7 linked regions of the Homo sapiens genome follow. The protein of the gene in region 6 purifies or fractionates together with the protein of the main gene of each other region. This does not show direct contact. Each region holds a gene or a part of one and is shown on either strand. Other genes may lie near its edges.

Region 1 (3,477 bases), on a different chromosome or scaffold from region 6:
GGCCAGGCCCTGTACTAAGGCAGGCATAGAGCTCTGATTCTTGCAAAGGGATGCATGGGCTTTGCACCGTCACTGCCTTGTGAGATTTGGGAGTACTGGGAGCCCAGGCTACAGGGCGAGTCTCATCAGCACCTGATGAGAAGGGGCAGATTCAGCTCAGACAACTGCCTTTTCCAGACCTCAGCTTCCCACCCCCTGGTTTCCTCACTGCAAACTCCTCCTCCCAGGCTCCAGGGCCACTCTACCCTCCCAAACTGGATTCTCAGAGGGCCTGTGTCAGCTGTTACTAGATGTCCAATAGCAGGCAGAACTGAGTTAAGTGGTCTGGGGTGGGCATTCCTTCAGAGCCCTGTCCCTCCCTTTGCGAGACAGTGGGAACACGACTGAGAATGAAGTTGGCCAGTCACAGCGAGTTGGAGTGGGAGTGCTGTGGAGTTCATTTGTGCTGTGCTATATGGTCTTCAGGAAAGAACACTGGATGCAGAGTCCAGAAACTTGGGTTCCAAAACGTGCTCAGCCTTGGCAGGGATGAACGAGCAAGAAAGGACCCAGTGCTCTGCAGAATTGAGGCTATTATTTTTTTTAGTCAATAATCCTCATTACCTGCCTCTTATGATCCAGGCAACCACAGTTGTGTGCCCAATGCAGAGACCTCCTTTCCAGAAAACAACTTCCTTTTGCATGTCACTGCTCTGGAGGATATTAAGCCAGGAGAGGTGAGGGGGACCAGGAACCGTCGGGATGGGTGGGCAGTAGGCCTTGGAAGTTCTCTGCAGGGATCAGGAGCAGCAGTGGCTAGAGCACCTTGAAGTTCAGGCTGTTGGGTGGAATCCCCACATACCTTAGGGTCTGAGTCTTTCAGCTCATGGTTAGGTTCTAACCCTACCTCGCTTTTTCAAAATATGACTCCAGAAAGCCTCAGGACAGTGTTTGAGGGACACCTATGTGCTCAGATTCTTGTCCCCAGCTATCTTTTGGTCAAATGCAGATATGTAATTTCTAAGAAAGCAGGAGATAGCTCTTTGTGGGTTTAGGGTCTTGTCTGTTAGTGCAGGCACAGTGCCTGGTTGAATCTTCTTGAGGGCAAGTAGCATCATACCAAGACCTCTGATCCCAGCTGCAGACCTTGGCCATTGACTGGCTTTCACCACGGCCTGAGGCCAACCAGTCTCCTCTGTCTCAGGCACAGGCTGTTGGAGCCTTATAGTGGCCTGCCTACTGAAGGCACTGGGAACTGGATGAGGGCAGCCAGCCCCTTCACTGAAGGGCAACGCAAACTTGGCTCCTAGAGATGGGGCAGTGGTTGGAGATAGGGTAGCTGTTGGGGAGGTCCTTATGCCATTTAAAAGAGCACAGACCATCAGACTGCACTTCTCTGCCCTACAGGAAATTTGTATCAGCTACTTGGACTGCTGTCAGCGGGAGCGCAGCCGCCACAGCCGCCACAAGATCCTCAGGTGCCAGCTGGGGACATGGTTGTGCAGCTGGGCTCTGGGGTCCTCTACCCATAGCTCCCTGACTTTTCCCCCTCACCATCCCCCACCGCTGCAGGGAGAACTATCTATTTGTCTGTTCCTGTCCCAAATGCCTGGCAGAGGCTGATGAACCCAATGTGACCTCAGAAGAGGAAGAGGAAGAGGAGGAGGAGGAGGAAGGAGAGCCAGAAGATGCAGAGCTGGGGGATGAGATGACTGATGTGTGATGTTGCCCTGCCCAGAAAGGGCCCTGCCCTAGACCCTGCCAGAAAAGGGGGCTCTTCCCCCAGAGAAGTGGCTTGGAGGGAACTTCCCACTCCCATTGCCTGCTTTCCCCATTCCAGCCCTCTCTGCTAGAGGGTAGGAGAGAGCCTGGATCTCTGGCCCCAACCCCCACCAGACCTCATGCCCTGGACACTGCTGCTGAGTTGGCTCAGACTCTGCACTGGCACTGAGCCTTTCACAACTGGCCTCCCCTTGAGGTTCCTCCACTCTAGGGTTTGAGGGGCTGGAATCAGGGCCAGGGCCTAACAGTGTTTCTTCCCCTCGGCCCCACGGCCCATACTCACCCCTTCACCTGAGGCTTCTCCCCTCTCAACTTGCTGTTGATTTCTTTTGAGGGGTAAAAGAAAGACCGAGTTCATTGAAGCAGAGATGGGAGGTGGTGAGGCGTCCTCACCTCCCCCCACCACAGCTGTGGCTGGTAAGGCAACTGCTTGACCACTGGCCCAGCAAGCAGAGGCGGGCAGGAGGATCTGGGCATCCTGAGCCCCTTCCCTGAGGCTGTCTCCTGGGAATGCTGGACCAGGGGGATTACTTCCCCCACCCACACCCCCATTTGGACATCTGGGGAAGTGGAGATTAACCCCTCCCCCAGACTCGTGCCTTGCCTCTCAGGACCTGGCACAGTGGCTGGCCTTATGGAGTATGGAAAAGGCCTCTGCCTTCCTCAGGAGGGACACATAGTGGGTCATCACCCTTTCTCACACCTGCTTCCCAATGAGCACTCAGCAGCATGGCTGAGACCTGGGGCTTGACAGGCCTGCGCTCCTTAGATTAGGATGCTCTGGTATTCCTGGGGCCAGTTAAAATGGGTCAGTGAGGGGCTCTCCTGGCCTCAATCTCCATCTTTAGGGTCTCCACAGACTAACATTGAAGTCTTCCAGAAACCTCGAGGAGCTGGGCTAGATACTTCGAGAGTAGCCCTGTCTTGTCCCCTCCTACCCCCAGATTAGCACCACCCCTCTCACTCTTGGGTTGGATGCTATGGGAATTACAACCCATCACTCCCAATGCCTCCCTTTCCTGGAGGAGCCTGCTGCATTCTCCTGCTGAGGGATCCCAGAGAGGGCAGGTGCCCACCCCACAGGCCCTTTCCTGGACCATGGAGCCAGGTGAAACCTGTCTGGCCCCTTACCCATTGGGTTCTTACTCCTTCACAACGGTCAGCACTCCTCTCCCAGCCCCCCTGCCCACTGTTCTCAATAAAATGTGAGTGGTGAGAGGCCTCTGCAGGAATGCTTTGTGGCAAGTGGCTGGGCAGGCTGCCCCGGGCGTGCAGCAGGCACAGGTGGGTGCAAAGGAATACCAATTAGACCAGGTAATGGTAGGAGATGGGAGCTCCAGGCTCACCAGCTTGGGCTCACCTCTACTGTTATTTACACCCTGCTATGCAAATGTTCTAATGCCCAAGAGCAAGGGTCCTCTGAGGTCCAGTTTGGGTGGTTTTTAAATTTTGAGACAGGGTCTCACCTTGTCACCCAGGCTGGCATGCAGCAATGCAATCATAGCTCACTACAGCCTTGAACTTCTGGGCCCAAGTGATCCTCCCACCTCCGCCTCCTGAGTAGCTGGGACTATAGGCTCACACCACCACACCCAGCTAATTTTTAATTTTTCTGTAGAGATGGGATCTTGCTATGTTGTTGCCAAGGCTGGTCTTGAATTCTTGGCCTCAACTGATCCTCCCACCTCGGCCTCCCAAAGTGCTGGGATTACAGGC
Region 2 (3,500 bases), on a different chromosome or scaffold from region 6:
TCTAGGCGGGAGGAAAGGCACTGAGTCCTGGGACAGTGTGGTGCCCTGTCCTCCCTCTGCCCCTCACAGATGAGCTCCCACCAAGCCACCACACTCCCCTCTGCTAAGACCCCACCCCAGCATCCCAAGGGCCCTGGCAGGAGGCACATACCCAGGATGTGGGGCAGAGGGACTGGTACACACGCTGGTACCATTCGCACACAGAGATATCGCCTCCTTTAGCGGTCATTGCCTTCTGACAGCGGTGGAAGTCTGTGAAGAAAGGGGTTCAAGTCAGCCCAGATCAAGAGTTGGAACACATTTTTTTTTTTTTTTGAGGTAGGGTCTCAATCTGTCACTCAGGCTGGAGTGCAGTGGTGCGATCTCAGCTCACTGCAACCTCTACCTCCTCCTGGGTTCAAGTGATTCTCCTGCCTCAGCCTCTCAAGTAGCTGGGATTACAGGCACCTGCCACCATGCCCAGCTAATTTTTGTATTTTTAGTAGAGACAGGGTTTCGCCATGTTGGCCAGGCTGGTCTTGATCTGCCCACCTCGGCCTCCCAAAGTGCTAGGATTACAGGCGTGAGCCACTGCACCCAGCAAAATTACATTTATAAAGATGTTTACAGCCACACCATTTGTAAGAACTCCAAAATGGAAATCACACAAGTGTACAGGCATAGAATAAATTGTAGAAAACTGGACAGCAATGAAAATGAGCAAGCTATATGCCACAGCATGTATGGATCTGAGAAGGTACTGAATGAAAAAATCCAAACACAAAAGAATACACACAGTATGTATAAAGTTCACAAAGAGGTGAATCTAAACACGGTGGTAGCCGGGCATGGTGGCTCAGGCCTGTAATCCCAGCACTTTGGGAAGCTAAGGCAGGTGGATCACTTGAGGGTAGGAGTTCGAGACCAGCCTGGACAACATGGTGAAGCCCTGTCTCTATTAAAAATACAAAAAAGTGGCTGGACCTAGTGGCTCATGCCTGTAATCCCAGCACTTTGGGAGGCCGAGGCAGGCAGATCACGAGGTCAGGAGATAGAGACCACGGTGAAACCCCATCTCTACTAAAAATACAAAAAATTAGCTGGGCGCGGTGGCGGGCACCTGTAGTCCCAGCTACTCGGGAGGCTGAGGCAGGAGAATGGTGTGAACCCAGGAGGCGGAGCTTGCAGGGAGCCGAGATCACGCCACTGCACTCCAGCCTGGGCGACAGAGCGAGACTCCATCTCAAAAAAAAAAAAAAAATACAAAAAATTGGCCAGGCACGGTGGCTCACGCCTGTAATCTCAGCACTTTGGGAGGCCGAGGCAGGCAGATCATGAGGTCAGGAGATCGAGACCAGCCTGGCCAACATGGTGAAATCCTGTCTCTACTAAAAACACAAAAAATTAGCCGGGCATGGTGGCACGCGCCTGTAGTCCCAGCTACTCAGGAAGCTGAGGCAGGAGAATTGCTTAAACCCGGGAGGCGGAGGTTGCAGTGAGCCAAGGTTGTACCACTGCACTCCAGCCTGGGCAACAGAGCGAGACTCTGTCTCAAATAAATAAATAAAATTGGCCAGGCATGGTGGCTTACACCTGTAATCTCAGCACTTTGGGAGGCTGAGGGGGGTGGATCACGAGGTCAGGAGTTTAAGACCAGCCTGGCCAAGATGGTAAAACCCTGTCTCTACTAAAAATACAAAAAAAAAAAATTAGCCAGGCATGGTGGCAGGCGACTGTAATCCCAGCTACTCGGCAGGCTGAGGCAGAGAAGTGCTTGAAGCTGGGAGGCGGAGGTTGCAGTGAGTCGAGATTGCACCACTGCACTCCAACCTGGGCGACAAAGCGAGACTCCGTCTCAAAAAAAAAAAAAAAAAAAAATTAGCTGGGTGTGGTGGCGAGCGCCTGTATTCCCAGCTACTCAGGAGGCTGAGGCAGGAGAATCACTTGAACCCGGGAGGCAGAGGTTGCAATGAGCTGAGATCGTGCCATTGCACTCCAACTTGGGCAACAAGAAACAGACTCCATCAATAACATAACAACATAACATATATAAAATAAAATAAAATAATAAACATGGTGGTAAAAAACAAAGATGTGAGGCCGGGCACAGTGGCTCACGCCTGTAATTCCAGCACTTTGGGAGGCTGAGGTGGGTGGATCACCTGAGGTCAGGAGTTCAAGATCAGCCTGATCAACATGGTGAAACCTTGTCTTTACTAAAAAAAAAAAAAAATACAAAAAATTAGCTGGGCATGGTGGCGGGTGCCTGTAATCCCAGCTACTAGTGAGGCTGAGACAGGAGAATTGCTTGAACCCAGCAGGCAGAAGAGGTTGCAGTGAGCCGAGATCGTGACATTGCACTCCAGCCTGGGCAACGAAAACAAAAAACTCAGTCTCAAAAACAAAAACCAAAACCAAAAACAAAGATGTGATAACCCCCAGTTAGTGGCGTCACTTCTCTACTGGGGAGAGCGGGGTGCTGTGTTCCAGACAGGACATAAAGAAGGTGGGGAGGCCAGGCGCGGTGGCTCATGCCTGTAATCCCAGCATTTTGGGAGGCCGAGGCGGGTGGATCACCTGAGGTCAGGAGTTTGAGACCAGCCTGACCAACATGGAGAAACCCCGTCTCTACTAAAAATACAAAAAATTAGCTGGGTGTGGTGGCAGGTGCCTGTAATCCCAGCTACTTGGGGGACTGAGGCAGGAGAATTGCTTGAACCTGGGAGGCGGAGGTTGCAGTGAGCCAAGATTGCACCATTGCACTCCAGCCTGGGCAACAAGAGCAAAACTCCATCTCAAAAAAAAAAAAAAGAAGGCAGGGAGATGAGAGTGTGGGCAATGTCTGCTTTTCTCTCCAGGTTATGGTTGCACAAGGGGTTCACTTTAGAATTATTCATTTAGCTGTACATGTTTGTTATGTGCTTTCTGTACATGTTACAGTACGCACACACATACAGCTTAAAAAAAAATCATTGTAGGGGCCAGGCACGGTGGCTCACACCTATAATCCCAACACTTTGAGAAGCTGAGGCAGGAAGAGCGCATGAAGCCAAGAGTTTGAGACCAGCCTGGGCAACAAACTGAGACCTCTTCTCTACAAAAAAATTAGCCAAGTACAGTAGTGTGGGCCTGTGGTCCCAGCTACTCGAGAGGCTGAGGTAGGGGGACCTCTTGAGCCCAGGAGGTTGAGGCTGCAGTGAGCTATGATTGCACCACTGCACTCCAGCCTAGGTGACAAAGTGAGACCCCATCTCTGGAAAAAAACAAAACCAAACCATAATAATAATAAAAAATTTAAATTAAAAAAAAAATCATTGCAGGAACTAAAGTTTGTAACCCTAGCCTGGACCTGAACAGCAGGTGATGAGAGGCATGGGCCTTCCAGAGTAAGGATGTTCAGAATAAAAGGGAGGAGGCTGGGGTGGATGGGTCCCCTAGGAAGAGGCAAGCGGTGAGTGACTCGAGGTATGTGGCCAGGGAAAGGTCCTGCTTACCCAGGTAGTTCTGCCAGCAGTTTCTAG
Region 3 (3,500 bases), on a different chromosome or scaffold from region 6:
TTGCTAAAGAGAATCATCCCATTCAGTATTCTGCTTAATGTCCAGTTGAGTTTTGAGACATTTAAATGGCTAATTCTTAGAACTTTTATAACCCTCCATTAGTTATTTTTGTTGCACCCATCTGTCTTCCTGGCAAGCAATAAAACCTTGACATATCATGGGCTTATGTGCTTAATTTCAGGACAGGGAAGAAAAGAGAAAATTTGGGACTATATAGCCAGACTATACAGGTCTAATTTCTGACTCTGAATATTCTGAAGAGAAAGAACTCAGGAAGCCAGTCCTAAATCAGAAAACTACCCCTCAAAGGCTTAATGGAGGGTTTTGCAGTTTAGCAAACCCATTGCTAAGGAAAGAATACAATAGAAGGGAGTTGGAGCTATTACAGAAGGGCACTGCTGTTGTCTAGATACTCTTGTATAGTGTTATTTGTGTAGCACATATTGTTACTAATGATTAAGGTCCCCTCCAGCTTTCAGATCTTATTGTTAAACTACTATTTGCATTTTTCACAAATATTTTATACTGCTTGAACCAAGCCTTTTTCTTTTTTGCTCAGTTCATGGTTGACAGATCAACTAAGCTAATTTTTATTGGATGTAGTAATTTTTAAAAGTTCCTCTGTATCACAAATTCTGTAAGATTGGTGCCTGTGACATACTTACTCTTGATTTTTTTCTCAAAAAGGTTAAATATTGGCTAAAATAACTTAGAAATGTCAAACTCTATCTTATTATAGTATTTGAGTGTCGGTGTATTCTAAAGTAAAAAACAGTATTTATTAAAGAATTTTATAAGAGTATTCTAACCAAACTTCCAATTTAAATAATTTTGTATTTTAAGTTACAGCACCCAGTGTATTGGTGTTGGGTGCAAAGAAAGGAAAGGCAGTCCAGCCTAAATTTATTGGCTCTTAGCTTCCTCATTGTAAGACAGTTGTGTTCATTCATTGAACTAAGAAGTTCTCTCCATTTGTTTGAAGATTGATAGGTTGGTTTCTCTTTATTAGTGGGTGCTACTATTCCCAAAAGGCCTTCACTTTGTTAGAAGTCTTCTAGGAAAATTATAAAAATATTCTGTTTACATCAAAAGAGAACAAAGAGGGGGAGGTACTGTAGTCCAATGTATAAACAAAAAGAAGGTAAAACTTTTATACCTTCTTATGCTGCATCAGGAGAACAGTGAAAGTGAAGACTGCATGCACGTTGGATGTGGTGGCTTGTGCTTGTAATCCCAACTATCTGTTCATGTTCTCATGGTACTTTTTTTTTTTTTTTTTAAAGAGACAAGGTCTCACTGTGGTGCCCAGGCTGGAATGCAGTGATGGCATCATAGCTCACTAGAGACTCAAACTCCTGGTCTCAAGTGATCCTCTGGCCACAACCTCCCAACTAGCTGGGACTACAAGTGTGTGCACCACCTCACCTAGCTAATTTTTTTTAATTTTTTGTAGAGATGGAGTATCAGAAAGTTACCTAGGCTGGTCTTAAACTCCTGGTCTCATGCGATCCACCTCGGCCTCCCAAAGTGGTGGGGATTACAGGGATGAGCCACTGAGCCCTGCCTCTCATGGTACTCTTCTACAGCAATCTATCTTTCTGGCTTCAACGCCAAAGCAATGGCACAAATTATATTGTTGCATTGAAGGCAGTCTACAATATGGATAAGTTATTATAAGTTAATAAATTGCAATACTTTAAGAAAGTATCAGTAAACAAGTTAATTCTGTGTCTAGTTGGGAGAGATTATCCAAGTCCGTGTTTTCTGGTCTCTTCCTTTCATTGCCTCTTGATAGTGCCTTTACAAAGGACAGGGTGCAGTTTTAGAAGAGTTTGGTGAACTTGAAATTAATTGTTAGAATGAGATTTTTAAATTTTGTGCATACATATCAGGTTCCCTATTGCGTAATATGTAATCAGCTTCTCAATTTTTTATGTACCCTAATATTTAATCAGGTTTTACATGTGATGCCTCTATCAGCAGTCAGTAGATTAGTATATTTATGTCTGTATTCAGGAATGGTATAACTGAGTGTTAGTATGAGTATATTTGTATCATGCCTAAATTTGATATGGTCATTCTCTACAATTACTTTCCTTCCACATTTCCTTTCTGTTGATAAAGTTGGAAATCTGACATCTTTACCTAGCCATTTTATTTATCCTTTATCATTGAGTTCTATGTGTTCTACATTTGAAATGTTTCAGATATCTAAATTTCTTTCCCATTTATAGTCCAGTATCACACTACAATTTACTTGAATATTACAGTAGTCTTCCATCCATTTCCCTGCCTTATGCATTTTTTTCCAGTTCATCCTACACACAGCCACCAAAATCATGTCTAAATCATTTTTCTAGTTATGTCCTATTAAGAAACTACTAGTGGTCTTTCTGCTGCTTACAGGGTAAAGTAGAAATTTCCTTGCCTACCTTGATGACTATTCTGCTTTTACACACTTAATCTCCCAGTACTTCCTAGCTTGTCTCTACTAGAGCCAAATTTTGTGTCATTCTCAGCCACAATATTTATGGCTTTTCAGTCAGTTTACCCAAAACTTGTTCATCTTTCAAACTTTATCTTCCTCTTCCAGTGTTCCCATCCACATTGATAATCTCACTCCTAATTTGGGTGCTTTCACTTTGTTGCCAAGGCTGGAGTGCAGTGGCATGATCTTGGTTCACTGCAGCCTCAACCTACCAGGGCTCAGGTGGTCTTCCTACCTCAGCCTCCTGAGTAGCTGGAACTACACATGTGTAGCACCTTTTTCTATCTTTTTTTTTTTTTTTTTTTTATGTAGAGAAGGAGTTTCACCATGTTGCCCAGGCTGGTCTCAAGCCTGGTTTCCTGGGCTCAAGCAGTCTGCCTGCCTCAGCCACCCAAAGTACTGGGATTACAGGCATGAGCCACCCAACCCATCCTACTCTGTGTATTTCAAAAATATTTTTTCTGCCCCTCTTTTTGGGAAATAATAATTACTGCTTCTAACAGTTATGTAACAGAGTGTACATATCATGCCTTACAAATCTTTGCTGTTAACTGTAGCATCCAAAGATGATAGGGTGAGTACTCTGTAAGTCTGGAAGAACAGGTCACATTTATTCAGACTTCTCCCCCACAATTTTTAATCAAGCACCTCCCAGTAACAAGTTATTTAATTAGATCGATTTTAAGTTGACAACAGATGTATCAGATGAGGAAAAAATTGAGCATGTGTGGTGTGATTATATAATAGAATTGGTTTCTATAAACCATTTATAGTATTCAACTTTTATAGTATTACTTTTTCAGATGTATGGATATATAGACTATTATTTACTAATTGAGGCTCTGCGAAGTGTAGTGTATTTTACAAACATAATTAAATACTATCATTTAATATGCCTGATACTAACATATATTAATATATTTTAGCATGGTTTCAAAAATTTTAATTAGGAATTTTTGCCTTTTATTATATCAGAAAGTATATTTTGCAGTCAGGCCTCAAATAAATCATT
Region 4 (3,500 bases), on a different chromosome or scaffold from region 6:
GGTCATCGGCAGCTGGGATGAGGCAGGGAGCTGTCTGCCTGCTTGCTCTTTTCTCTCTGGTCCTGTTTTGGTACCACATGCCCAGACTTCCACTGCTGAGGCAGAATGAAAAACTAAGTTAATATCCCAAATAATGGCTGGGCGCGGTAACTCACACCTATAATCCTAGCACTTTGGGAGGCCAAGGTGGGTGGATCATTTGAGGTCAGGAATTCAAGACCAGCCTGGCCAACATGGTGAAACCTTGTGTCTACTAAAATACAAATATTAGCCAGGCAGTAGTGGTACACGCCTGTAATCCTGGCTACTCGGCTGGGGGCTGAGGCAGGAGAATTGCTTGAGCCTGGGAGGCGGAGGTTGGGATGAGCCGAGATCATGCCACTGCACTCCAGCCTGAGCGACAGAGAGAGACCCTTCTGAAAAAACACAATAAAATAAAAAATAAAATCCCAAATAATACCCAAGTATGAAAAAGTGTCTCAGCATTACAACAGTAGAGCAAATAGATGCTTAGGGATAAAACTTGCCCTGCAGTGAATTAGATAAAAAGCCTGAATATGGAACGGCCACTTGTAGTGTCAAGTCCCATGTGGATTGTGATGGCTTAACTTGGTCATATTCCCGGGTTGCCAGTCACGATGAAAACTTTGCTCAGGGCAGTCAGGCTAGGAAGTAGGGGTGAGTGGAAGATAGCTGCCTTTCTCCAATGGCATCTGCAGAGGTGGTCTGAAGAAGACATTCCCACACAGAGAGGGGAGTCTTGAGTACTGTTTGCTCTGGGAAAGTGACAGGCCCTTTCACAGGCAGAACAGAAAGCAGGCACTTGAGGAGGTGGGTGGGTGGAAGAAACAGCTCAGCCCCAGTGTGTCTCCTGGGAACTTAACTCTCTCAGCACGACTGCCCTTCAGTTAATCTGTTCAGGTGCTGTGACTCTTCTCCAAAGGCTGAGAAACTAATGGTGATTACTCTTACACCAAATCTAAATTCCACGGGATTTATATATATATATTCCAGATTTCTCACCAGTTTTGTTCTATCTGTCCTAGTAAGCGCCATCTCTCTTATCACAGGCCTGTATCCCATTTCCCACTCTAACTTGCTCCATTCTAGGCTGGGAGTATGACATGTTTAGGGTCTGGAGGTAAGAGCAGATATCTTGGGCTGATTAAACCATAGGATTCCATTTGTCCCATTATCTTCTTTGTGTTTTTATTTTTTTGATACAGGGTCTCACTCTGTCACCCAGGCTGGAGTGCAGTAGTGCGATCTCGGCTTGCTGCAGCCTTGACCTCCTGGGCTTAAGCAATCCTCCCACCTCAGCACTCTTGAGTAGCTGGGACTACAGGCACACGCCACCACGCCCGGCTAATTTTTGTATTGTTTTGTAGAGATAGAGTTTCACCATGTTGCCCAGGCTGGTCTCGAACTCTTGGACTCAAGTCTGGCGTTCAAGTGAACTCCTGGGTCCACCGTGCCCAGCCCCATATCATTTTAATTCGTGTTACCAACAGCTTGTCCTTTGGGAAACAGCTCAGTTCTCGGTATGGGCTGATGGGAGGAAGTGGAGGAAAGGTGTAGGACAGAACATGGCTCCATCCTTCTGCATTCATAAGTACTTAATAAAGCTCAGAAGTGTAGGATACACTGCCATTCTCTTCTGTCAAGTACAGTTACGTATTTTTTAAAATTTTATCATGGAAAAATTAAAACATACATAAAAGAGATAATAATATAGTCAACCCCAGGGTGCCCATCTTTTAGCTTCAACAGTCATCAAATCAGGGCCAAATTCATTTCTTCCATCCCCACATCCCCCTGCTGACTTTGCTGCAAATCTCAGACATCATTTTTTGGTGTTTCTGACACACACACATCCTTTGATTTTTCACAGAGGCCAGTGCTGCTGAGGAAGCAGATGTGCACGTAGCTGTGGTGGTGAGACCAGGCAACGCAGGATTAACAGATGATGAGAAGACTTACTACAGCCTCATCACATCCTTCAGTGAACTATACCTGCCTTCCTCAACCTAGAGAAGGGTTGTTAAGGCAGACCGCCCTGTTCCCCAGAGTTGTCCCTGTAGTGTCTAGGTTTATTCTAATGGTAAAAGTAACTTACTTAAAAAACATATGTACACATATGTATGCAAGTATGTATATATGTGTATGCTCAGATTAACTTCCATAGGTACATAAGTGAAAGAAGTCTCAGTTCAGTGAACACAAAACTTATTTAAAGATGCTTTATATGTAGAAATTGTTTCAAATCATACTCTAACCCTTAGTGAGGGCAAAGTGTAGTTGGTAGAAGAAATTGCTAAATACCTATCTAATGTGCTATGTTTATCAAATCGTGTACTAAAATGGAAAGCTAGTTTTGAGAAATTATTCAGAAGCCTTGTTATTTTAAAAATGAAATATTTCAAAGACTGAATATTTTCAAAGAAAATGAATAATTCATTGCCCTTGTGATTTAGAAGATTATAACAGCTGTATTTCATATTTGCCTCCTTATATATATCAAAGACCAAGGTATTTCCTTCTGCTTCAAAAGAACAAAATTGGGAAAGAAAACTCACTTGAGTCTTGATCAAACAAGTGTCTTTTACTTAAGAAGAAACTTGGTAATCATTGTGGCACCCACAGCAAGCAGTTGCCTTACCAGTGAAAAAGGTGCACTGAGGTAACATCTAAAACAGAGATGTGGTTCTTAATGTTTAACAGAACAGTTCTAATCCTGCCACGTGTTATCATTATAGATTTTATAGTTGCCTTTCTAACTACTTAGCACAGTTTGAGAATACGTTAATTGCTATTTACTATTTAAAAAGTTTTACTGAAATCAGTCCATAACATTAAGATGAGCCCTAATATGTAAGATTTTCCTCTGGAATGGATGTGAGAAATGTAAATTTTATAACAGCAGTATTTATCCTGGTTTAATTCTAATACGATGTCATGTTAATTTCATGTTGTGATTAATAAAAGCATTTTTTCTTCACTCAGTTTTATATAGGTTCCTGAACTCTATCCACATGCCGCCATAGCAAAAGAGAAACTGAAAAACAAGAATATTTAGCTCTTATCTTAATCGTGTATCATGTGTGTGTTTTAATGGAGTGCCGGTGGCAATTCATGGTTATTATTTGAGTTATGTATACATATAAGGTTACTATTCCATTTGGATAGTAAGCATTCAGGATATGAGTGGAGTTCCTTATATTTTTGAGAATCTTAACTTTGAGGTCTCTAAGGTAATGCTTGAAGGAGGGAGTTACTCTCCTAACTAATCAAGAAAAACTCACGAATCCTGGAGGAGCAATTTTAGAAATGCTTTGAATAAGGAAAAAGAAGTCTTAGAACTATGAGAGGACAGGGGATATAAAAGATTTTATGTTGATAATTTTGATCTAGTAGCCAATTAAGAAATCTAGGGTCTATGAAAATATATGAATAAAAAAGAAAGGAAATGAGTTTAGGTACATCTTAGAAATGGGAATAAT
Region 5 (3,500 bases), on a different chromosome or scaffold from region 6:
CTTATGGGATGAGTCAAGCAGCTGTTGTGACTCCAGTTTTTTCTTAGTATATTTCTCTTTTCTTCTCTGTTACTAAGTGGAATAAATAATTCCCCAAATACCAGAAACAGTTGGTCCAAATTTGTATTACAAGAGACAACAACATATCAAGAGCTCTCTATAAATTTACATCTGTAGTCTTTTGATCTGCCTATTTAGAAAGGTTCAGAGTTGTGCCTGTGCCTAATAGTTATCTTTGGGAGGAACTAGGAAAGTTATAAGCTGTGGAGGTATTTAATGAAGTAGGTAACATAAAGGTATGTGAAGAGATTGGGCAATGTCGATATGTTGTTTTAGTCATAGGAAGGCATTTGCAGTAAAGGGCTGCTTGGCATTCTGAGGTTCTGATTTCTAAACTTCCTGGAGTCTTGGTAAAGTTACTCTGTTGTGCATTCCCTGTAATGGTTAGTTAGCTATGATTGTGTTTACTGGAAATTAGTTTGCTAAGCAGATCTGTACCTTTAGCAGGACTCTGAAGGTATAGATCCAACCCCTAAAAAAACTGAAGTGTACAAAAAACTATGTTAAACTGGTGAAGAGAAGTAGCTATTTTTTAGTGCCTGCTGGGGGAGTATTACCAAAATTTGGTCTAAGAATGTTATGTCTTAGTTGGATTATTGGGGGGAAATAAAAATTTAAAGAAATAGGAATAGTTAGTGAATACCATTTAGTTATATTCATTAGTAATAGAAAACATGTTAATTGCATTTTCAAAAATAAAGGCCAGCAATTTATAGGAAAAGTCATCTAAGAAGTTGACTCATTAGAGGGGGTTTGGTAGGGTAGGCCCACTGTAGAAGATCAATATTTAGTTTAGGTTTTTTATACTAAACATGGATTGATAAAGAGGAAGTAGGCCCAGAAAGATTCTTCATTCTTGAGTAATCATTATTTTTCTTTTTTAGCAAATTGATGTTTTTCATTTTTTTGTTTGTTTTTAGTGTTGAATCACTGATGAATAATTTTTCTGTTTGTAGTACAATAGTGGTTTTAATATTGAAATCAGAGCAGAAGCAAGCAGTGATTTTTCAACTTCATGTCAAATCCAGTTGGTACACGTTTGACAAGGGCAGTTTTTAATTGAAGATGTGGTCCTGACTTATTTGCCAAGGCTTACCTTTATATTTGTCCTTTTTCAAAAGTGCCTGCAATACCTTGATGTGTCAGTGCTGGGCGAGCTAGTTCCTAGGTTGTGTGAACTGATCAGAAGTGGTGTAGGTCTTGGAACTAAGGTAAGTGTACTTTCCACAAGAGGAAATGTGCATCTTCATTAGTTCTGGCCATAAGGATATAACAGCCATCATGTTTGAAATTCATGTTTTACCACAAAATCTAATATTATACACTAACCATTTTATTTCTGTGGTTGCACTGATAACTGAAAACATGTAACTGGTTCAAGAAATAAAACATCTAACTGTTCCAGTAAGTATTAACTTATTTAGTGGAATCATTTCTGTTCTCTGGTTGCCGTGTACATACCCTCTGGGTTGTCATTCATTAGCAGTTCATGGAAATGCACATCCAGTTATTAGGGCATGGATTGTTTTAGGTGGCAATTGCATTTTTCACAGAGGGGTCAGCAGTGTTTGAATAGAAAAATGTCCTAGTTTTCAAGATCTTTGAAGGATCAGACACCCCCCTACCACCCTTTTAACAACAAATTAATAACTCACATTTTTTCTTATGACAAAATTAACACTTGCTGGTATTTTAAAATTTTAGCATTTATAGATTAGGAGAAAGTTAAAATAAAAATTGTCCAGAATTTTGCCATACAGAGATAACTGCTGTTAATATTTTGAAGTGTTTCCTTCCAGTCTTTTCTGCACATGTATCTTCTGCAGTGTCCTCTTCTAATGGCCGTATGATACTCCACTGTATGGATGTAACATCATTTATTTTACTCCATCAAGGAACATCTGATTTGTTTTCAGTTTTTGAAAAAAATAGTAAAGCACTGTGATGAGTGTCTTCAGGCACACCTGAAGATATTTGGTTAAATTTCTGGAAATGGAAATGTTAGCACAGTGATGGACAAGATGACATATTTTGCTTTTCCAGAAGATTGTACCAGTTTTCTTTCTTTTTCACAATGTCTGAGATCACCCATCTTTCTCTTGGAGGTTTAAAAAAAATCGCTGCATTACTAGTTTAAGAGTTTGCCTTTTTCTATATTGAGTCCTGGAGGGGGTATTAGGCTTCATGTATTTTATATGTTTAAATTTTTGGCACCTAAGCCAATGGTTTGGTAGGTAGAACATTGTGACCATCAGATTTAGACCTTTGCTTTTGTAACCCTGTAGGGTGGCTGTGCCAGTGTCATTGTGTCATTAACTACTCAGTGTCCTCAGGACCTAACACCTTACTCAGGTGAGTTTGTCAAGGGATGTGTGGTGATATTTTTGCACAGCCCTGTCTTGTGTGACAGAGTTTTAAAAAGGAAAAATACTTATCATTCAGACCTGCTTGTGATGCTGTGTGCCTTTTCTCCCCTCAGTCCCCTGACTCCTTCATTTCTTTGTCTGCAGGAGGTGCAGAGTTTATCAAGTTTAGCAGCTTTTCACTGTTCATAAACATTTGATTATTCCTTAGTGGTATAAGGAGGTAAAAGTATCCTCTTTTCCACAGGACTTACCATTGATAGCTGATTTTACATCAGCATTTTTCTCTTCTTAGATTGGCTTCTAGACTGGACTAGTGTTCTTTATATACCTCGTTCTTATTTTGCATCTTTTTCCACGATATTCTAGTTTAATTTTAACTTTATATCATGTAAAAGGAAGCAAATGGATATATAAATATAACATCCAGAAATCTAAACTACTGTGGAGTAAATCAGATGTTAATTACAGGGTTAGGTTTGTTTGGGTTCTGGGAACAGAGTGGAACATTTGGTCAACCAAGTATCAGATTTTTTTCTCTTTATTTCTGGTAGGTAAACTTATGAGTGCTTTGCTGAGTGGCCTGACAGATCGGAACAGTGTGATTCAGAAATCTTGTGCATTTGCTATGGGCCATTTAGTTCGGGTGAGTTAAATTTCTTGCTTAGTTAAATAAAACTCTTTGACAGTTATAAAGAAATACTTAGGATTGTTTCTTTTTCAGACCTCACGGGATAGCAGCACTGAAAAACTCCTGCAGAAGCTCAATGGGTGGTATATGGAGAAAGAAGGTACCTTTCTTTTTCTATTTTATGTCATTTTAAATTTAGATGTTAACAGCCCAGTAAAACAGTACAAATTAGGTCTTACCCTCCATGATTTTATGTGATTTGCTAGAAACATTTGTTTCTTTTCTTTTCTTTTTTTTTGAGATGGTGTCTGGCTTTGTCGCTGAGGTTGGAGTGCAGTGGTGCTATCTCAGCTCACTGCAACCTCAGCCTCCTGGGCTCAAGCGATTCTTGTGTCTCAGCCTCCTGAGTAGCTGGAACTACAGGCACGTGCCACCACGCCTGGTTA
Region 6 (3,500 bases):
AGGGCCTGAGGTCTGCTGGGTACAAATTGGGAGCCTTCCCCAGCCCCGGCTGTGCTCCCCATATTCCAGAGGGGGAAACTGAGGCCCATAAAGGTTCTCTTCTGCCAAGCTGGGATCCCATCTTCCTAGATCTTCCCCTCCCAAGCTCCTCTTTTGTTAAGCCCTCTCATTCTCCCTCCAGGTGGTCCCCCCTCGAGTCACTGAGCCCCACCAACGGCCAGTCCCATGGGACGTGCGGGCCGTTTCAGTGGAAGCGGCTGTGACTCCAGCAGAGCCCTACGCCCGGGTTCTCTTCCACCTCAAAGGGCAGGATTGGCCACCAGGGTCTGGCAGCCTGCCCTGTGCCCGGCTCCATGCCACACACCCTGCCGGCACTGCTCACCAAGCCTGCCGCTTCCAGGTGAGTAGACAGGCCCCACCTAGGCTGGTCCTGCTGCAGCTGCATCAGCCAGGTGGTGGGCCCGCGGCAGAGAGGAAACCCCCACTCCTGGGAAGCGCGGGGGTTGTGGACCACCCGACTCCATTTCTGCCCCCACTAGCTTTCAGTGCTGTGAAAAGGTTATTTAGGGCCCCAGAGGGAGTTCAGTCCTTGGTGTGTGACTTTGAGTAAGTAACTTAATCTCTCTGAGATTCAGTTTCCTCATCTGAAGAATGGGGTGTTAAGAATTCCTACCCCATCTGGAGTTGGAGTAAGGAACAAGTGAGATGAATGTAAGGATAGCTTACGGCAGAGTAATCAATCAGCCAGTGTGTTTGCATTATTAGTAGTGTTACTTTTATAATTGCTATTTCCACTATTTTGGAGTCTAGCACAGGAATCCATGGGAGAGGCGTCTCTTGAGCTTTAGGATTCTGAGAAGAAGACTGGATTCTAGGCAGGATAGTCCTGGGCTTGGTTAGGGTAAGGCCCTGGGATTGGCTTACTTTGTAATGAGACCTATCCCAAGGGCTGAAGAGTGGTCTGCGGACATGCTCTGAAACCTAGACCTGGTTTGAAGCCCCAGCCAGGTTGCTGGTTTGCTGTGTCACTCAGGCTGTGTCTCCGGCCCATGCTGGGCCTCCCTTTCATGAGCCCCTCCAGCTCTGGGTTTCCTGCCATGGGTGCTGAGAATCCTGTTCCTCGCCCTGCACCCACCCCCATGCCAATTACTGCTGTCGTGTCTTCACAGCCATCCCTGGGCGCCTGCGTGGTGGAGCTGGAGCTTCCCTCGCACTGGTTCTCACAGGCCTCCACCACACGGGCCGAGCTGGCCTACACGCTTGAGCCTGCAGCTGAGGGCCCTGGGGGCTGTGGCTCCGGCGAGGAGAACGACCCTGGGGAGCAGGCCCTCCCAGTGGGGGGTGTGGAGCTGCGCCCAGCAGACCCCCCGCAGTACCAGGAGGTACCTCTGGACGAGGCTGTGACTCTGCGGGTGCCTGACATGCCAGTGCGGCCCGGCCAGCTCTTTAGTGCTACCCTCCTGCTTCGGCACAACTTCACAGCCAGCCTCCTGACCCTGCGGTGAGCACCAGGCCACGGGGATGGGTGAGGGTGGGAACCTCTGTGGGAAGACTAGGGACAGGTACCTGCTCCTCCTGGGGTCCTTGCTGGAATCCTTGACCTCTGCAAAACATGTGTCCACCAAACTAAACTCCTTCCAGGTAAAAAGCCATGACTGTGCTGGTAGGAGCCCACCATGGGCACAGCCCTGGAATTAGAGTCAGAAGTAGGAAGCTGCCCCTTCCCCTGGCACCTCCCTGAGATTCCTTTGTCCAATGGGGCTAACGGTCCACCTTCAGGGCAGCTGCAAGTCTCCAGGGAGGGGAACCCGCAAAGGGCTTAGAGACTGCAGTACCTAAGTGTGAGCTCTTGCTCCAGTGCTCCAGAGAGGGATATTTGCCCCAATCACGTTCACCTACATGCTGTCCCTCCTTGCCACCCTCGCCGTAGGAGTCTAGCCTTTGGACAGAGCTTGCTCTTCCCCATAGGAAGGCCCTGATTCTTTGTGTCCTTTTCCGTAATAAGTTCCCCCAAAGCAGCCCCCACCCACCTACCCAGTTCACCCGGCAAGGGCTTGCAGAGTATGACTTGCTTCTGGAGTCCAGCGCAGGAATCCATGGGAGAGGCATCTCTTAGGCTTTAAGATTCTGAGAAGCCTGAGTTCTAGGCAGGATAGTCCTGGGCTTGGTTAGGGTGAGGCACTGGGACTTGCTCACTTTGTAATGATATCTTTCCTGAGGATCGAAGAGCGGTCTGTGGACATGCTTTGAAACCTAGACCTAGTTTCAAGCCCTGCCTGGGTTTGTGCATGTCCCGTCTCTGTGTCTCCCCATCTCCTACGCCCTCCTATGCTCACTCTTATTAAGCAGATCTTTCCTAGACACTTACAGCCTGCCAAGCCCTGTGTCTTCACTCTGCAGATCCAAACACGAGCAAGGGCCAGTCCCTATCTGGCAGAAAGGGGCCCCAGTGGTAGGGAAGGGAGCTGGATGGGCATGAATTGGATTAGAAGGCATGTGGGTGTGTAAGCACTGAGGGAGGTTCAAAGTGCGGTGGGAGCTCAGGTGAGTGGGTGCAGTAAGGGGGAAATTCATCCCACCACTGGAAAAGCTTTCTAAAGGAAATGGTCTGTGAGTTGTTGGAGGCTTAAAGCATCAGCAGGTAAAGTAAGAAAGGGCAGAGCAGGCTGAAGGCACAGACTGGGCAAAGGCTTGGAGTCACGAATGGGTGCCGTGTGTGTGGGAAACTTGTGTGTAGCTGAAGCAGAGAGTGCATGGAGAGATGTCACAACCGAAGTTAAGGCTGGACCAGACCCTGGAGGGCCCCCAAATGCCCGGCTAAGCTTTGACCTTATGGGCAGTGGGGAGGCGTAAGTGGTCTTTGGGTGGGGGAGAGCTGTAAGGTGTGAGCTGCACTGAGGCGGGGTCCTTCTGGGTTGGAGGATGGTGAAGAGGAGATTCAGACTGGAGCCAGGGAGGTCAGATGGCTTTGGCTCCTTGTCTTTCCCCTTCAATCCAGCCCACAGTTCAGCATGCACCTTGCCAAACTGAGCCTATACTCTCTTCCCCAGGATCAAGGTGAAGAAGGGGCTGCATGTGACAGCCGCCCGCCCAGCCCAGCCCACACTCTGGACTGCCAAGCTGGACCGCTTCAAGGGCTCCAGGCACCACACCACCCTCATCACCTGCCACCGTGCTGGGCTCACAGAGCCAGATTCCAGGTGGGCAGTTTCCCTCCACCCAGGGGGCAAAGGAGGGAGGGCTGGTTATAGAGTGCAGTTGAGCAGATTTGGAGGCTGCCATGCTGCCTCTAGATCCCCAGGTGAGCAGACCCAAGGACAGATTTTTTCAAGGAAGCAGCACAAAGCAGGCATAATCCATTCCTTCATTCATTCATTCGGCCACTATCTTCCCAGCCCCAGCCATGTGCCAGGCATAGCAAGTGTCTGTGAGTCTTATTCTAAGAGATGCCAACCAATCCTGTGCCCCAGGTAGAGCCCTCATAGCCACTACTCCATCCC
Region 7 (3,932 bases), on a different chromosome or scaffold from region 6:
TCCGTCTCATTATCCCTGCATCTCCTCCCCAGCCCTACTTCTCCTTCACTGTAAATCCCCCAAATCCCACCTGTCCTTTACCTCCCAGCTCAAGGATGCACTCCGTCCAGAAAGCCTTCCCTACTACTCTCACCCTTGGTGAGCTCTCTACTTCATAAACTGTAGAATCTTTAAAAGGTTGTTTTGAAGATTAAGTCAGATCATGGAAGTAAAATATTGGAACACGACTGGGCACATCATAAAGGCTGGATAAACTTGGGCTAGTCGTTAGGAAGGAAAAGAATGGCCTCTTCCTGCTGCTTCCACTTCTGAAAGCCGCCAGAGGGCGTCCACTACCCAACATTCCCTGGCAGGGGGTGCGGGAGAAGGGGCCCTTCCCCAAGAACAGAACTTCCTAAAGCGGATGTTTGAACCTCGCAGTTATACAGAAGACTTGTAGGAAGGATGGACAAACGTTCTTAAGCCCATGACGGCCCTTAACCTGGTCGCTCCCTTTTCTGATGGAGACTCAGGCAATAGCGTGTGTGCGTGTGTGTGTGTGTGTGTGTGTGTGTGTGTATCCGTGTGTCCTAATATCAGACATTTGTTCTTGTTTTCCAGGCAGCGTCTCTCTAGCTTCTTTCTGCAATGCTGTAGTACTCTCTCCAGTATTTCAGGAGGAGGAGCATTTGCTATTTCAAAAACGAAAAACAAAAACCTGGCCACATCCATTTTTTTCAGCAGCCATGCGATTTCCATCATTGCTCACATTTTATGGATGAGGAAACTGAGTCTTAGAGGAATTCAGTAAGTGATACCTCTCTCGGATGTGTTGAGTAACTGAGACTGCACTCCCTCCCAGGCTGGAACGTCCTGGTACTCCCACCCCCACAGGCTCAGTTCTGTGCATTATCTGCCTTTTTCGGGGATTGTGACCCTTCTTCACAGCCTCCTCCCTCAGAAAGCCACCACCATCAGATCCGATTCTCCATGGTACAGCTTCTTCTTTGGTTCCACTCTCCAGCACCCTGGGGAAGCAGGAACAGAGGCTGCTGCCACTCTCTGACCTCTAAGGGGTTAAGGCCTGGGTCCCGCCCCTCTTCCCGCCCGCCTGGCGGGAGTATGAATAGCCTCGCTCCCACTCCCGACTCTCAGTCGCTCAGGCTACTCCCACCCCGCCCCGCCCCGTCATTGTCCCCGTCGGTCTCTTTTCTCTTCCGTCCTAAAAGCTCTGCGAGCCGCTCCCTTCTCCCGGTGCCCCGCGTCTGTCCATCCTCAGTGGGTCAGACGAGCAGGATGGAGGGCTGCATGGGGGAGGAGTCGTTTCAGATGTGGGAGCTCAATCGGCGCCTGGAGGCCTACCTGGCCCGGGTCAAGGCGCTGGAGGAGCAGAATGAGCTGCTCAGCGCGGAGCTCGGGGGGCTCCGGGCACAATCCGCGGACACCTCCTGGCGGGCGCATGCCGACGACGAGCTGGCGGCCCTGCGGGCCCTCGTTGACCAACGCTGGCGGGAGAAGCACGCGGCCGAGGTGGCGCGCGACAACCTGGCTGAAGAGCTGGAGGGCGTGGCAGGCCGATGCCAGCAGCTGCGGCTGGCCCGGGAGCGGACGACGGAGGAGGTAGCCCGCAACCGGCGCGCCGTCGAGGCAGAGAAATGCGCCCGGGCCTGGCTGAGTAGCCAGGTGGCAGAGCTGGAGCGCGAGCTAGAGGCTCTACGCGTGGCGCACGAGGAGGAGCGCGTCGGCCTGAACGCGCAGGCTGCCTGTGCCCCCCGCTGCCCCGCGCCGCCCCGCGGGCCTCCCGCGCCGGCCCCGGAGGTAGAGGAGCTGGCAAGGCGACTGGGCGAGGCGTGGCGCGGGGCAGTGCGCGGCTACCAGGAGCGCGTGGCACACATGGAGACGTCGCTGGGCCAGGCCCGCGAGCGGCTGGGCCGGGCGGTGCAGGGTGCCCGCGAGGGCCGCCTGGAGCTGCAGCAGCTCCAGGCTGAGCGCGGAGGCCTCCTGGAGCGCAGGGCAGCGTTGGAACAGAGGTTGGAGGGCCGCTGGCAGGAGCGGCTGCGGGCTACTGAAAAGTTCCAGGTGAGGAGGTTGAGGGCCTGGGTGAGAGAAAGTCCCAGAAAGCTCCAGAAAGTCCCTTATGAAGCTCAGAGACCTTCTGGGAAGGGAGTGGGGCTAGCTGGCTGCTGAATCAGGAGCCAGTTCTCAGAAACCTGGTGCCACAAGTCCTAGACTTTTACAGCCCGTCTAGTGTAGGATGCGAATGGTGGGGCTTCTCGAAGCACATCCCGGGTGGGCAGTCAGGCCCAAGACCCGTTGCAGCAGCCCCGCCACTCTCTGGATGGCACCTTCTGGCTCTGATGATGACCGGGGCTCCGGGTCCCTTCCCAGGCTCTGGTATTACTAGGAGGACACCCAGCACTGTCGCCTCTGCGCTGAATCTGGTGGCCTGGCCACTCAGAATCACCAAGTTCCTCACAGCCCTCCTTCTCCTGAGGGGAGGAGTGAGGGGCCGTGAATGAATGGCTACCAGCCCCCTCCCATGTCATGGCTTCTCGGCTCCCTGGAGCACATTCCAGAGGCCCATAACAGCTGCTCCTTCTCACAGGGCACAGATGTGACCAGCAGCTGAGAAAACAGCTTCTTGCCTGGGCCACACAGAGGTGCCATGGCCACCTCCCCATCCCTCCTCTCAGAGGAGACAGAATCCAGAACATGTGGGAAATGGGGGTGGGGCGGGGGTGAGAGCCTGCTGTGAGGAGCAGGAGACAGTTGTGGGAGATGGGACCAACGGGGGACGGGGGCTGTTTGCCTTCCAGTCCTGCAGGCTCCAGGCATCTTGATTAATCGTTTTTCCTTCTGCTTTCGCTTTTTTTTCCCCCTCTTCTCTCTCCATAACCCATCTCGTCTCCTCCCTCACCTCCCCTTCCTGTGGGAGCTGTGTTCTGAGCAACATGTGCTACCATTTAATCAGCATCCTCAGAGGAGGAGCAGGCCATGGGAGAGAGCTGAGAGTGCTGACAGGGGCCCTGGGCTCATCTTGGCTGATCCAGAGGGGGCTCTCTGGGCAGGGAATAGGGTAGGGGAGGCGGGGGTCTGCTACACAGATAAGTCAGCCAGGGAGCAGGAGGTGCTTCCCGGGCAGCGGCAGCGGGCAGGAGGCAGGTTGGTTCACAGAAGGGACCCCAGCCCCTCCACTGACTGCCTCTCGCCTGCCCTGCAGCTGGCTGTGGAGGCCCTGGAGCAGGAGAAACAGGGCCTACAGAGCCAGATCGCTCAGGTCCTGGAAGGTCGGCAGCAGCTGGCGCACCTCAAGATGTCCCTCAGCCTGGAGGTGGCCACGTACAGGTACGAGACGAGCCCTGTCCACCCAGGCACACAGAGGCACACACACATGCTGGGGCAGACTACGTGGCTGAAGGGGACCAGAGGTGTAGGTGATGGCAACTCTGCTGCCACTGGGTTCTGTGACTCTAGGCTGGTCACTTCCACACCGGAACATGTCCTGCCTGAAACCGTCTGCTCCCCCATAGGCTGGAGACCTGAGCAATGTCCTGTGCCCAGGAAATCCCCCCAGGAGAGATGATATTGCCGAGCGGGACAGCCTCTGGAGAGGGGCTGGGCCCGTGTGGGGCAACTGCATCCAGACCCTTCCCCCAAGGGGCAAAGCTCCAACTCTATGTGTGCCCGCACCCAGGGGGTCATGTCCTTTGGCAGCCACGGAAAGGAGGCATTGCAGGCATGGGGTGGCTGCACTGACTTGCCACCTGACCTGGGCCTCAGCCTCGTCTAGGGGCTGAGGGCTGGGCTGGGGGACTTCCAAGGCCTCTTCTAGCCTGGATGTCATGGGGCGAGACTCCTCTGATGCCCCTAGTGCCCTTGGTCCTGCCCAGCCTTTCATTGTCCACATTTTCTGTTATCCTAGAAATGGCTGAGACCAAGGAGGGGTGGCTTCT

Evidence for each region.
Region 1: the proteins of TMEM132A (region 6) and SMYD5 purify together in Homo sapiens (affinity purification with mass spectrometry; one large-scale study listed by BioGRID and IntAct). This does not show direct contact.
Region 2: the proteins of TMEM132A (region 6) and COX6B1 purify together in Homo sapiens (affinity purification with mass spectrometry; one large-scale study listed by BioGRID and IntAct). This does not show direct contact.
Region 3: the proteins of TMEM132A (region 6) and SEC62 purify together in Homo sapiens (affinity purification with mass spectrometry; one large-scale study listed by BioGRID and IntAct). This does not show direct contact.
Region 4: the proteins of TMEM132A (region 6) and ENOPH1 purify together in Homo sapiens (affinity purification with mass spectrometry; one large-scale study listed by BioGRID and IntAct). This does not show direct contact.
Region 5: the proteins of TMEM132A (region 6) and ECPAS purify together in Homo sapiens (affinity purification with mass spectrometry; one large-scale study listed by BioGRID and IntAct). This does not show direct contact.
Region 7: the proteins of TMEM132A (region 6) and NES purify together in Homo sapiens (affinity purification with mass spectrometry; one large-scale study listed by BioGRID and IntAct). This does not show direct contact.

The regions. Positions count from the first base shown.
Region 1 is NC_000002.12:73,224,245-73,227,721, forward strand, and holds the end of SMYD5 (protein-lysine N-trimethyltransferase SMYD5), read left to right. Parts: intron 1-621; coding exon 622-716; intron 717-1,386; coding exon 1,387-1,457; intron 1,458-1,551; coding exon 1,552-1,702; 3' UTR 1,703-2,977; downstream 2,978-3,477. UniProt on the Homo sapiens protein: Protein-lysine N-trimethyltransferase that specifically catalyzes trimethylation of 'Lys-22' of the RPL40/eL40 subunit of the 60S ribosome, thereby promoting translation elongation and protein synthesis.
Region 2 is NC_000019.10:35,651,323-35,654,822, reverse strand, and holds part of COX6B1 (cytochrome c oxidase subunit 6B1), read right to left. Parts: coding exon 3,474-3,500; intron 253-3,473; coding exon 152-252; intron 1-151. UniProt on the Homo sapiens protein: Component of the cytochrome c oxidase, the last enzyme in the mitochondrial electron transport chain which drives oxidative phosphorylation.
Region 3 is NC_000003.12:169,969,807-169,973,306, forward strand, and holds part of SEC62 (translocation protein SEC62), read left to right. Parts: intron 1-3,500. UniProt on the Homo sapiens protein: Mediates post-translational transport of precursor polypeptides across endoplasmic reticulum (ER). Proposed to act as a targeting receptor for small presecretory proteins containing short and apolar signal peptides.
Region 4 is NC_000004.12:82,458,090-82,461,589, forward strand, and holds the end of ENOPH1 (enolase-phosphatase E1), read left to right. Parts: intron 1-1,891; coding exon 1,892-2,031; 3' UTR 2,032-3,088; downstream 3,089-3,500. UniProt on the Homo sapiens protein: Bifunctional enzyme that catalyzes the enolization of 2,3-diketo-5-methylthiopentyl-1-phosphate (DK-MTP-1-P) into the intermediate 2-hydroxy-3-keto-5-methylthiopentenyl-1-phosphate (HK-MTPenyl-1-P), which is then dephosphorylated to form the acireductone 1,2-dihydroxy-3-keto-5-methylthiopentene (DHK-MTPene).
Region 5 is NC_000009.12:111,372,884-111,376,383, reverse strand, and holds part of ECPAS (proteasome adapter and scaffold protein ECM29), read left to right. Parts: intron 1-1,181; coding exon 1,182-1,271; intron 1,272-2,345; coding exon 2,346-2,412; intron 2,413-2,977; coding exon 2,978-3,069; intron 3,070-3,147; coding exon 3,148-3,214; intron 3,215-3,500. UniProt on the Homo sapiens protein: Adapter/scaffolding protein that binds to the 26S proteasome, motor proteins and other compartment specific proteins. May couple the proteasome to different compartments including endosome, endoplasmic reticulum and centrosome.
Region 6 is NC_000011.10:60,927,460-60,930,959, forward strand, and holds part of TMEM132A (transmembrane protein 132A isoform b precursor), read left to right. Parts: intron 1-181; coding exon 182-400; intron 401-1,169; coding exon 1,170-1,501; intron 1,502-3,050; coding exon 3,051-3,200; intron 3,201-3,500. UniProt on the Homo sapiens protein: May play a role in embryonic and postnatal development of the brain. Increased resistance to cell death induced by serum starvation in cultured cells. Regulates cAMP-induced GFAP gene expression via STAT3 phosphorylation.
Region 7 is NC_000001.11:156,674,608-156,678,539, reverse strand, and holds the start of NES (nestin), read left to right. Parts: upstream 1-1,132; 5' UTR 1,133-1,275; coding exon 1,276-2,058; intron 2,059-3,199; coding exon 3,200-3,324; intron 3,325-3,932. UniProt on the Homo sapiens protein: Required for brain and eye development.